Homo sapiens: one gene and its partners. Changing the gene in region 1 together with any one later gene gives a genetic interaction. Each region holds a gene or a part of one and is shown in the gene's direction. Other genes may lie near its edges.

What was found.
Region 2: changes in UBE2D3 (region 1) and ETAA1 are lethal when combined (synthetic lethality), as found in Homo sapiens cells (one large-scale study listed by BioGRID).
Region 3: changes in UBE2D3 (region 1) and PTAR1 are lethal when combined (synthetic lethality), as found in Homo sapiens cells (one study listed by BioGRID).

What each region holds. Positions count from the first base shown.
Region 1 is NC_000004.12:102,800,048-102,803,709, reverse strand, and holds part of UBE2D3 (ubiquitin-conjugating enzyme E2 D3), read left to right. Parts: intron 1-1,071; coding exon 1,072-1,149; intron 1,150-2,150; coding exon 2,151-2,256; intron 2,257-3,662. UniProt on the Homo sapiens protein: Accepts ubiquitin from the E1 complex and catalyzes its covalent attachment to other proteins. In vitro catalyzes 'Lys-11'-, as well as 'Lys-48'-linked polyubiquitination.
Region 2 is NC_000002.12:67,407,267-67,410,056, forward strand, and holds part of ETAA1 (ewing's tumor-associated antigen 1), read left to right. Parts: intron 1-2,644; coding exon 2,645-2,772; 3' UTR 2,773-2,790. UniProt on the Homo sapiens protein: Replication stress response protein that accumulates at DNA damage sites and promotes replication fork progression and integrity.
Region 3 is NC_000009.12:69,721,986-69,725,647, reverse strand, and holds part of PTAR1 (protein prenyltransferase alpha subunit repeat-containing protein 1), read left to right. Parts: intron 1-2,017; coding exon 2,018-2,322; intron 2,323-3,662.

The sequences.
Region 1 (3,662 bases):
TCTTTGAACTCGTGTCCCTTGTTCATATTTCATGATACCTATAACATTTCATTGCAGTTACTTTACATGTCTATCAGTGTAAGCTCATCAAGATAAAAAAAATTGTTCTTTGGATCCCTTAACACACATACAGTATATAGCAAGGGGTTAGATTAATTGAATTAATGTTTATTTATTTTACAGAAGGGTAGGAATTAGATGAGCTGTGTTAGTGTCAGGCCTGTTTTTTATGTGCCTGACATCCAGAATGGGCATAGTGAAAGGCTCATATATAGCTGTATATACAAAGCCTTTCTAATAGAGGGGAGTCAGTGTTGGTAAAAACCCAGTTCATGTAAGTTGTAAAACATGTCTTCGGATTGGTTCTTTGCATACCCAGAAGCAGTTAGGCATTCCACATTTTAACTTTAAATTCCTGAGTAGGTCAGTATCTTTGATCATTAAGTGGTCTTCAAAAGACTTGTGTTTGAATCTTGGTTCTATCATTTACCATTTGTACACTAGACTAAGTTCTTTAAGCCTCATTTTTCTCATGCATAAAATAGGGGCAATGCATGTATTTTCTGGTATTGATTAAAATGAGAAGCTTAGGCTTTTCTCTGTTCTCCTCTTGAAGGTGGTGTGTGTGTGTTACCTGGAATAGCTAACATTTGGTTTGCCAGTGGGCAGAATGGACTGTTGTGAAGCCATTTGTACACATCTGGCTATTGGAAGAAATAATCTACATGTGTAAAATTTTGTTTACAGATTATTCTGAAACATGATTATGTAGGCTTTATTGCTGTGTTGTACTTTTGAGAATTGAGATCTAGAATACTTGCGTTTCTGGATAACTTTTTAAAAAAACATTTTGGTGACGTGTAAAATGACTAGATAAATTAGGGTTTATTACTGTATAAGTTTTAAGTTTTTTTCTATTACTATAGACTGAATTTTCATGGAATAGATTATTTATTGCAGTGTAAATAGGTGATTTGGGTTCATTATTAGAGAAATGCTTGGAAACAAATGTTACGGAATATTTAGCAATAATATTTTAAATTTGAGTTAAGCATACTTTTCTTTTTACAGAATGACAGCCCATATCAAGGCGGTGTATTCTTTTTGACAATTCATTTTCCTACAGACTACCCCTTCAAACCACCTAAGGCAAGTATTTTCCCTCAAAATCTGTTAGTATAGATTTATGCTTTATTTCAAAGGAATAGAGCATTCTTGGAAGATAGGGTTCTGTGTAGGCTGTATATATATGTTGAATTGCACTCATGTATAGATGCTGACTCTTAACCTTTGGTTTAAAGAGCTAGACCTCAGTTTGAGCTTTGTAAATAGGAATAAGGTTTGCCTTTTCTTTAATGTTGCAAGATTCAGACCATGTGGAAGCTTCCGCCCTCATCTGTATTATTGTTACACAGATTCTGATTTTTGGGCTTTTGTTGTCTTGTAAGCATCAAATGTCCAACTTCAATTTATATTTGCACGTATTGTTACAGCATATGCTTATTATGCTTATAGTTTTGTATACGTAAGTGTAAATTTGTGAAAACTTAGAGTTGCTTAGTGCACTGGTTTATAGGTATTAAAAGCATATTATCCTTCACTTTTCAGTCATTAACATAAATTCAACCTGTATGAATAACTAGAAAAGGTAATATACAAAGGTCATAAACATGTCACTATAACAATCTCTAGTAATGTTATAGGTGCAATGTGATGGTTTCCATTTTTGTGATTCAAGTTTATGTTTTATGTACGGTGGAAATGCAGACTCAGGTGTACCTGTGTAACTTAATGAAACTTTAAATGAGATGGTCTACAAATTTTGGTTACATCCAAAAGTTAGGGCTTTTATAAATGAATGTGTTAAATACCTTTAAATTGCCCTTTGATTCATGATATGGTAGGGCCACAGTAACCTTTAGAACTTTACATCATATGAGTAATGAAATTTTTATCCAAAAGTTTAGGTTTCTGTTGTAAAAAGAGGAGGCAGGGGGTTGTGGTCAGATTGTAAAAATCAGTTTCTATAATATTTAGAACTTCTATGCTAATAGATGACATTTTTAACATTGTGGCTTGATTATTTTAAGTTTTGCTTTAAAAGATGTTTGTTTTTATTTGAATAAAATACTTAAAAGTTTTTGTTTTAGGTTGCATTTACAACAAGAATTTATCATCCAAATATTAACAGTAATGGCAGCATTTGTCTCGATATTCTAAGATCACAGTGGTCGCCTGCTTTAACAATTTCTAAAGGTAAATATTTCTAGTGAAATAAGCTGTTCTCATTGTCTAATAAAGCTTCATTCTTAGATCTACTTATCTGAGTATTTTTATTATGGCAGCTTTTTGGTAAGAGATGGGGAAGCAATAAAGTTACTTTTATAATTTTTGTTCTTTTAGTGGTGTTGATTAAAGATACTTTGTGAGAAGTTGTTAAAATTCAAATTGTGGTGAGTAGGCATTATTTGCCTAATGAGTTACCTTCATCTCATCTTATAATAGCAAAATTTATTTTAATAGACTTCTGTATTTTTCAATCCCAAACCACTTGGACATCTCACACTAACTTGCGGCCTTTTTACCAAGAATGGTATGATATACCTAAACTTAATAGAGCTTTTGAATCCTGAGGTTTCCACTCTAGGAAAATTCTGATTTTGCTTTCCTGGGTTAATTTTTAGACAAATCTTCAGTCATGTTTTATGTAACCATGATAGGTTGTTTCTACCTAATGACAGTCTAAAATTATATAATCTTCGAAAGATCTGTAGATCAATTCTGGTCTCTTAATAGGTATCTGTTACGTTATATGTAACAAGTTTTCCGGTCTCCGCATGAATATCCCAGGTGAAGTTGTAATAATTAACACTATTTCACCATTAATTGTTTTTTGATTTTATGAGTTCAGTAAGTACAAAAAAGCTTTTTCAAAAGGCAAGGCATTGTATAAAAGTTTCATATGTGTATATACTGCACTTGAATCTCATGGAGAGAGACTGTAGCAGTAGCATTTCCCAAACTTTATTGAGTAGAATCACTTAAGGGAGAAAAAGAAACAACTTAGGCAGATGCTGCCATAATTCGAGTGTTTTTAAAATTTTACACCTGTTTTTCACCTTCTTGGATGCTTTCTAATTTCTTTTCAAATCATGCTACATACCTAAATATCAGTTTCCAAGTTTTTCTACTACTGCTGGGAGTGTACAGTAACACTGAAAACTGTTTTTGTAAGGGCAGATTGAATTGGTATTGTTTTGTCGTTAAAGCAACTTACTTTTTTGGCAGCCATACTTTGCTAACTTATTAAACTAGCAGTCACAACTGAAGCTACCTTTTTTCTGTGAGTTATTGTATAGCCAAGTCTCCTATATTAGGTAATTTTATATTCTGCTGTATTTGGGGTTTGAAATTAAATTTGCTGTAGTCAATAAATATGTGACAGTGTTGTCTTTTTTATACTATTGCTTTTTTTAAAAAAAAATCGGTCAGAACCATTTCAAGCATTTATATCTTAACATTTTATAACAGCACCACCATATATGGTGACTGGCACATAGCAGGCACTCAAAGTGAATGCGATCTATGTTCCTTAATGCTTGACATCTTATACATCAGTATGTTGAACTGGTTAAGGTAAAAACTAGAGCTGATGACTCACT
Region 2 (2,790 bases), on another chromosome or scaffold:
TCACAAAAGAATCTCATAATGTTGTAAAAAAGTTTATGAATTTGTGTTGGGCTGCATTCAAAGCCATCCTGGGCTGCGGGTAGCTTGCGGGCTGCGGGTTGGACAAGCTTGCTTTACATGATAGCCCAAACTAGATATTTTGAAATATTAAAAATTGTTCTCAATCTATAATAATTTTAAGTATTTAAATTTGTATTAAAGTGAGCATATTGTAACTAAATCAAGCATGTTCCTAGCATGACTTTATTTACAGATAGAGTTGACCCTTGAACAGTGTGGGGGTTAGAGGCGCTGATCTGATTTGCAGTCGAAAGTCTGTGTATAACTTTTGATCCCCTAAAAACTTAACTGCTAATAGCCTGCTGTTGACCAGAAACCTTTCCGATAACATAATTAATTAATACATATTTTGTATGCTCTTATATGTATTATATACTGTATTCTTACAATAAGCTGGAAAAGTGTTATTAAGAAAATAAGGAAGAGAAAATAATATTTACTATTCATTAAGTGAAAGTGGATCATCATAAAGGTCTTCATCCTCATGATCTTCATGTCTAGTAGGCCGAGAAGGAAGAAGAGTAGGAGTTGGTCTTGCTGTCTCAGGGGTGTCAGATGCAGAAAACAACCTACAAATGAGTGGACTTGCCAGTTCAAGCCCATGTTGTTCAAGGGTCAACTATAGTTATAATTCTATAAAAGACTAAACCTCCTGGAGTATTTGAGTTTTCCCAAAACTCCTATCTACCAATCTATCTGCATTTTTTATGGATAATCTGCGTTTTAGCTTACCTTATCAATATTTTCTTTAAACTTATTGATAGTACTGAATCTCTTAATTACTATTAACTTTGTTGATGTTTTCTATTGTTTCTACTTCCTTTTACTTTGGTATGTAGCAAGCTGCTCTCCAGGGAAGTATCTCTGAAACAAAACTCACTTAACTCCCACATTTATTTCAGGCAGGAGTTGGCAAACTATGATCTGTCCAAATCCAGCCTGCAGCTTGTTTATGTATAGCCAGCACACTAAAAATGATTTTTACATTTTAAATGGTTGGAAAAAAATTAAAAGGAGAATAATATTTCATGACATTTGAAAATTATATGAAATCCAGATTTCATTGTCCATAAACAGGTTTTATTTGAATACAGCTCATCAGTTATTTATACATTATCCATAACTATTTTTGCTACAGTGGTACAGGTGAGCAGTTGCAACAAGATACTCAAAGGTTAACATTCTTGCTTTCTGACTCTTTCTTTACAGGAAAAAAAAAAATTACTGACCCTTGCACTGTAAGATCAAGATTAAGAAGAGCAGCTTTTGCTTAGTACTTTACAATATTTTAAGACTTCATTGTGTATTTTTATTATAGATTGAGTTAAAGGAAAGACTGATGGGAAAAATGGATGAGTCCCTAAATCAAATTTTCATGGTGTGACCTGATTATCATTTGAAATTATTTTCTATAATATTGCCAAGCAAATTGTAAGACCAACTTTAGGAAGTTATGTTTTCTGCTGTTACAGATTATTAACCTGTTTTCTTTCCACACAGTCAAATTCAGTGTAAAGTCTTTGGATGTGTAGTCTGAGTTTGTTGTGTTTCTCAGCTTTGAGACTAAAAGTATTAGATAATTAGTCAAGCTAATTAGAAAGTATCTTCTGGTGTCTCTCTTTAGGAAAAAATATCTACAGTCTGTTAGGTAAATAGCTTAGGAAATAAAAGCCATCAAAATCATCTGGGAAACTTATTTAAAATATGTATTTCTTAGCCTGAATACCCCCTCCCATTTCTGATTATACCAAGAAAGGAAAGGGAGGCAGATTATATATTTTGAAAATGCCTCTGTTAGTTAACAAGAGAAATGTCTCATAAATTGTGTATCTTTTTCTAAATGTCAGAATAAATGATATACTTAAATATGTATTAGGGTGATAGTCTTAAACTTAAAATATCATTTAAATGAGAAAGTGATTTCTAATACAAAGCCTCAACTTACTAAGTTAATTGAGATTATTTTAAAGTTTCTCCAAAATGCATCCTCCAAATAAAAATATAATTTCTGACAGTGAATCACAGGTAACCAGTTTGACATGACAGATTTCATTTTATCACTCTAAAATATATTTCCTCAGTGGATGAAATGAAAATTTTATAGCTCTATAGGGAAAAGTAGATGTGAATATTAATATAACATCTTATGTAAATATACACTGTTTGAGATTGATAACTAATTTAATTCCTTATATTTTGACTATTTTCCAATTAAAGTTTACATAACATTTTAAATCCCAATGTATCCTTTTTAAAGATATATTTATTCGTGGGTCATATAAATTAGATGTCATTGTCCACAAGAATTATTTGGTGGGTAGTCAGTTTTCTATCAAACTGAATTTTATCACACTGTGAAAAGAATGTATCAAATAGAGACAGATCCATCAGTGCTTGATTTTCTTTTGAACTGGAGCATTATATCTGTATTATGTACTTAGAATTTTATATTCAGTAGTTTAGTTTGATTTAATAGCCAACTAATATGGCAAATCTGGGTGATTAAAAAAAGCAAAAATTAAAGCACATATTGAATGACTTTATAGGCTATAAAAGTAAAACTCATCTTTTGTTGAATTTTTAGAGGAAGAAGAGAAAAATAGAAAGTGTTCTCCTGAAGAAATTCAGAGAAAAAGACAAGAAGCACTGGTTCGGAGAATGGCTAAAGCACGAGCCTCATCTGTAAATGCAGCTCCCACTTCATTTCTTTAATGAAATATTAGTTGGAAG
Region 3 (3,662 bases), on another chromosome or scaffold:
AATTTTTTTAAGAAATTGATTTTGTTGAAAATATATATATATATTTTTTTTCTTTTTTGAGATGGAGTCTTGTTTTGTCGCCCAGGCTGGAGTATAGTGGAGCAATCTCGGCTCACTGCAACCTATACCTCCCAGGTTCGAGTTATTCTCCTGCCTCAGCCTCCCAAGTAGCTGGGACTACAGGCATGCACCACCACGCCCTGCAAATTTTTGTATTTTTAGTAGAGACAGGGTCTCACCATTTTGGCCAGGCTGGTCTCCAACTCCTGACCTCAGGTGATCCGTCCGCCCCAGCCTCCCAAAGTGCTGGGATTACAGGTATGAGCCACCACGCACAGCCAGAACATCTTTTATATGTGTGCTATTTTTGCCTCAAAATTAAATAATAAACTGCAATTTTATACATAGAAATATCCAGTTAGAAATAATCTAAATGTTTTCATATTATATAAGTTCATTTTAAATAAGTGGAGTACTCTTTTCAATCCATGTTAAGAAGCCATGCCAAAATAAAAAAGCTGCTGTATTATAGCCAGAATGTTCTACAGGTTTATTTTTCAAAAATGTAATAAATGTAAGATTGATTTTTATTTCAGGTAGGAGTTTATCTGGTGCTATTTTTCTTCACCTTTTAAAATCAAATAAAGATACTGTTTTCCATTTCTCAGATACTTGCCAGCTATAGCCTCTGGAATAAATTTAGGTGGCTATGAATAAACTCATTGGAACTTAAAGGAGATGTTTAAAACATATCACTGATACAACTTGACTATCTTGGCTGGAAGTAATCTTACTATTTGCCTTATTTATTAAATTGTTCATTCATTTCATAAAATATTTATGTATCCACTTTGATGTCAGTAGGTATAGGGGGATTGAAGTATCAGATAGGAATGAATAAATATCTTAAAGCCCTCACTCACTGAGTTTAATGAGAATGAAGAGATGCACTGAAATTCTTTAATAAATGTGATGGAATACATAAGTACTATGGGGGTTCAGCAAAAGGAAAGATTCCCGCGGAAGAAAAATGGTGTAAGAAATGGAAAAAAGATCATGGTACAGGAGAAGGCATTTGCCTGGGACCTTTGACAAACAGGTAAAGGTGTCATTCAGCATTATGCTGTCTGTATTGTTAACTGTTCACAAATGTATGTCTTTTTTCCTTAGCTGGTCTGAAAATCCTCTGACGGAACGTGGTAGGCACTTGATATACCTTTCACTGATTTATGTTTGCGACCTGTCCAAGACACTCTCAAATAAATTATTTTTGCATAGGTGCTGCTTTTTAAAAAATCATTTCATTTGAAATTCTTTAGTTTGCAAGATATTGGTATCACAAAGATTTAAACAATTTGCTGCTGAATTTTCAGTTATTTTAAAACCCATTTATTATTACTGTTAAGTAAGTTTGAGACAGTTAAAGTCACGAGCTCTTGAAAAAATCTTATTATTAGTGCATCATGTTTTTCTACTAATCCCTTATAATTAAGTAGTGAGCAAGACAGACACGGTCTCTGCCCTCATGACATTTATATTGAAGAACAAATAATTTCACTGAGCCTATTGTAGAGATAATAAGTTACATATTATACACATTTATTAAATGTAAAATAAAGTTTATATCAAAGTAATCTGAGTTTATATTTTTGCTTTTACGTCAGCATTACTTGTAAATGAATACCCTAATGCTCATCATTATTTTAGAATTTTATTTTCCTTCTCTGTGTGTACCAATCAGAATGTGAGTAGTCAAGGTCTAGGGAAAGGATGACAAATGAGTCCTTAAATTCTTTAGTCTTAAAAAAAAATCTATCACTTTTATATGGGAAAGAGAAAATTCGCATGTATTAAGCTTCCACTAAGTGAGAGCACTGTGCTAGACATTGTGTACAAAATATTGGTAAGAATGGTCTTGTCAAAAAAGGAACAAATCAAAGAGAAATCAGAGGCAATAATGGAGAAAGAAGAACCTTTGGGAACTCTTCTTCTTACTTCCCTTTTTTCTTCTTAAAAGATTCTTCTTGATGAACTATCTTCTACTAAACATTGGGCATCTATGCACGTTTCAGACCACAGTGGATTTCACTACCGCCAGTTTTTGCTTAAGTCTTTGATTAGCCAAACTGTGATAGACAGTTCTGTGATGGAGCAAAATCCTTTGAGAAGTGAGCCAGCCCTAGTTCCTCCAAAAGATGAAGAAGCAGCAGTTTCAACAGAAGAACCAAGGATTAATCTTCCCCATCTTCTAGAAGAAGAAGTTGAATTCAGCACTGATCTTATTGATTCCTACCCAGGACATGAAACCCTTTGGTGTCATAGGTAAGAAAAGGGAAAATCTATTTCCTACACAAAACTGCATGTCTTCATGAGAGCTGCAGAAAGTGTTAGTTACACCTGATTCCTGCCTGCTTGGGTAAACATGGTCATCTGATTGTGGAGCTTTGCCTGAGTGAATACAAGAGGTTTTGTGTTACCATATCATCGTCATCATCATCATCATCATCATTAATAAGAGATTCCTCATGTAGATCTCTGCCTGCAGCTTAGGATGGTGATATTCAACCTTGACTGTGCAACAGAATAACCTGTGTTAGTTCCAAAATAAAACAGAATCAGAAGTTTTTTTGACTCCTTCCTTGGAGATACTAATATTTAGCATATCTAGGATGGATTGCTGCCATCTCTCTTTTTTTTTTTTTTTTTTTGAGATAGAGTTTTGCTCTTCTTGCCCAGGCTGGAGTGCAATAGCGCGATCTCGGCTCACTGCAATCTCGGCCTCCAAGGTTCAAGCAATTCTCCTGCCTCAGCCTTCCAAGTAGGTGGGATTATAGGCACCCACCACCACACCGGGCTAATTTTTGTGTTTTTAGTAGAGACGGAATTTCACCATGTTGGCCAGGCTGGTCTCGAACTCCTGACCTCAGGTGATCTGCCTGCCTTGGCCTCCCAAAGTGCTGGGATTACAGGTGTGAGCCACCATGCCTGGCCCTTTTTTTTTTTTCCCCCCTAGAAAAAGCTCAACACATTGATGCACAGTCAGGATTGAGATTTGATTAGACCCCAAGAATAAGGTATGCTTTATCATTTTTCCAACCCTGATGGTCTGCAAATTAACTTACCTGAAGTATAATCTCTTGACACTTTTTGTTTAAAGTGTAAGAGAATTTCTCTTTGAGAGAGGGGAAAGTCTGGTAGCAAAGAGTGAAAAAGGGTTAGCAACCTATCAACTTCAGTTGTGAGTACATTTGACAGTATGTTGGACTGAAGTCACATATGTGACCCCTTCCCAGCTTCATTTCTTTTGGATCTTCCTTTATTTGGAGGCATCTTCATCTTCATAAATACAGATTCTACTTTAGGCCATAGCATTGTATTTGTAAATGAAAGACTTGCCTGTGCTAGGCAGGAAGGAGGTAGGCATTGTTTAAAATTGCCTATTTCTAAAGTTATTGAGATTTTCTTTCTTTCTCCAGTCTAGTCTGTCTTGCAGGTTATTTGAGGAGACCTGGTCAGCTGCTTTTCCTTACTAAATATATTCAGAACATAAAAGATTATCTCCCCTCTTTGGCACCTTCATTAGTAGAGAACATTCTTTTTCTCTTAAAACCAAGACACTTATTTCATGTTTTCAAGAGGGAAGATAGACCTTTTAAGCTACT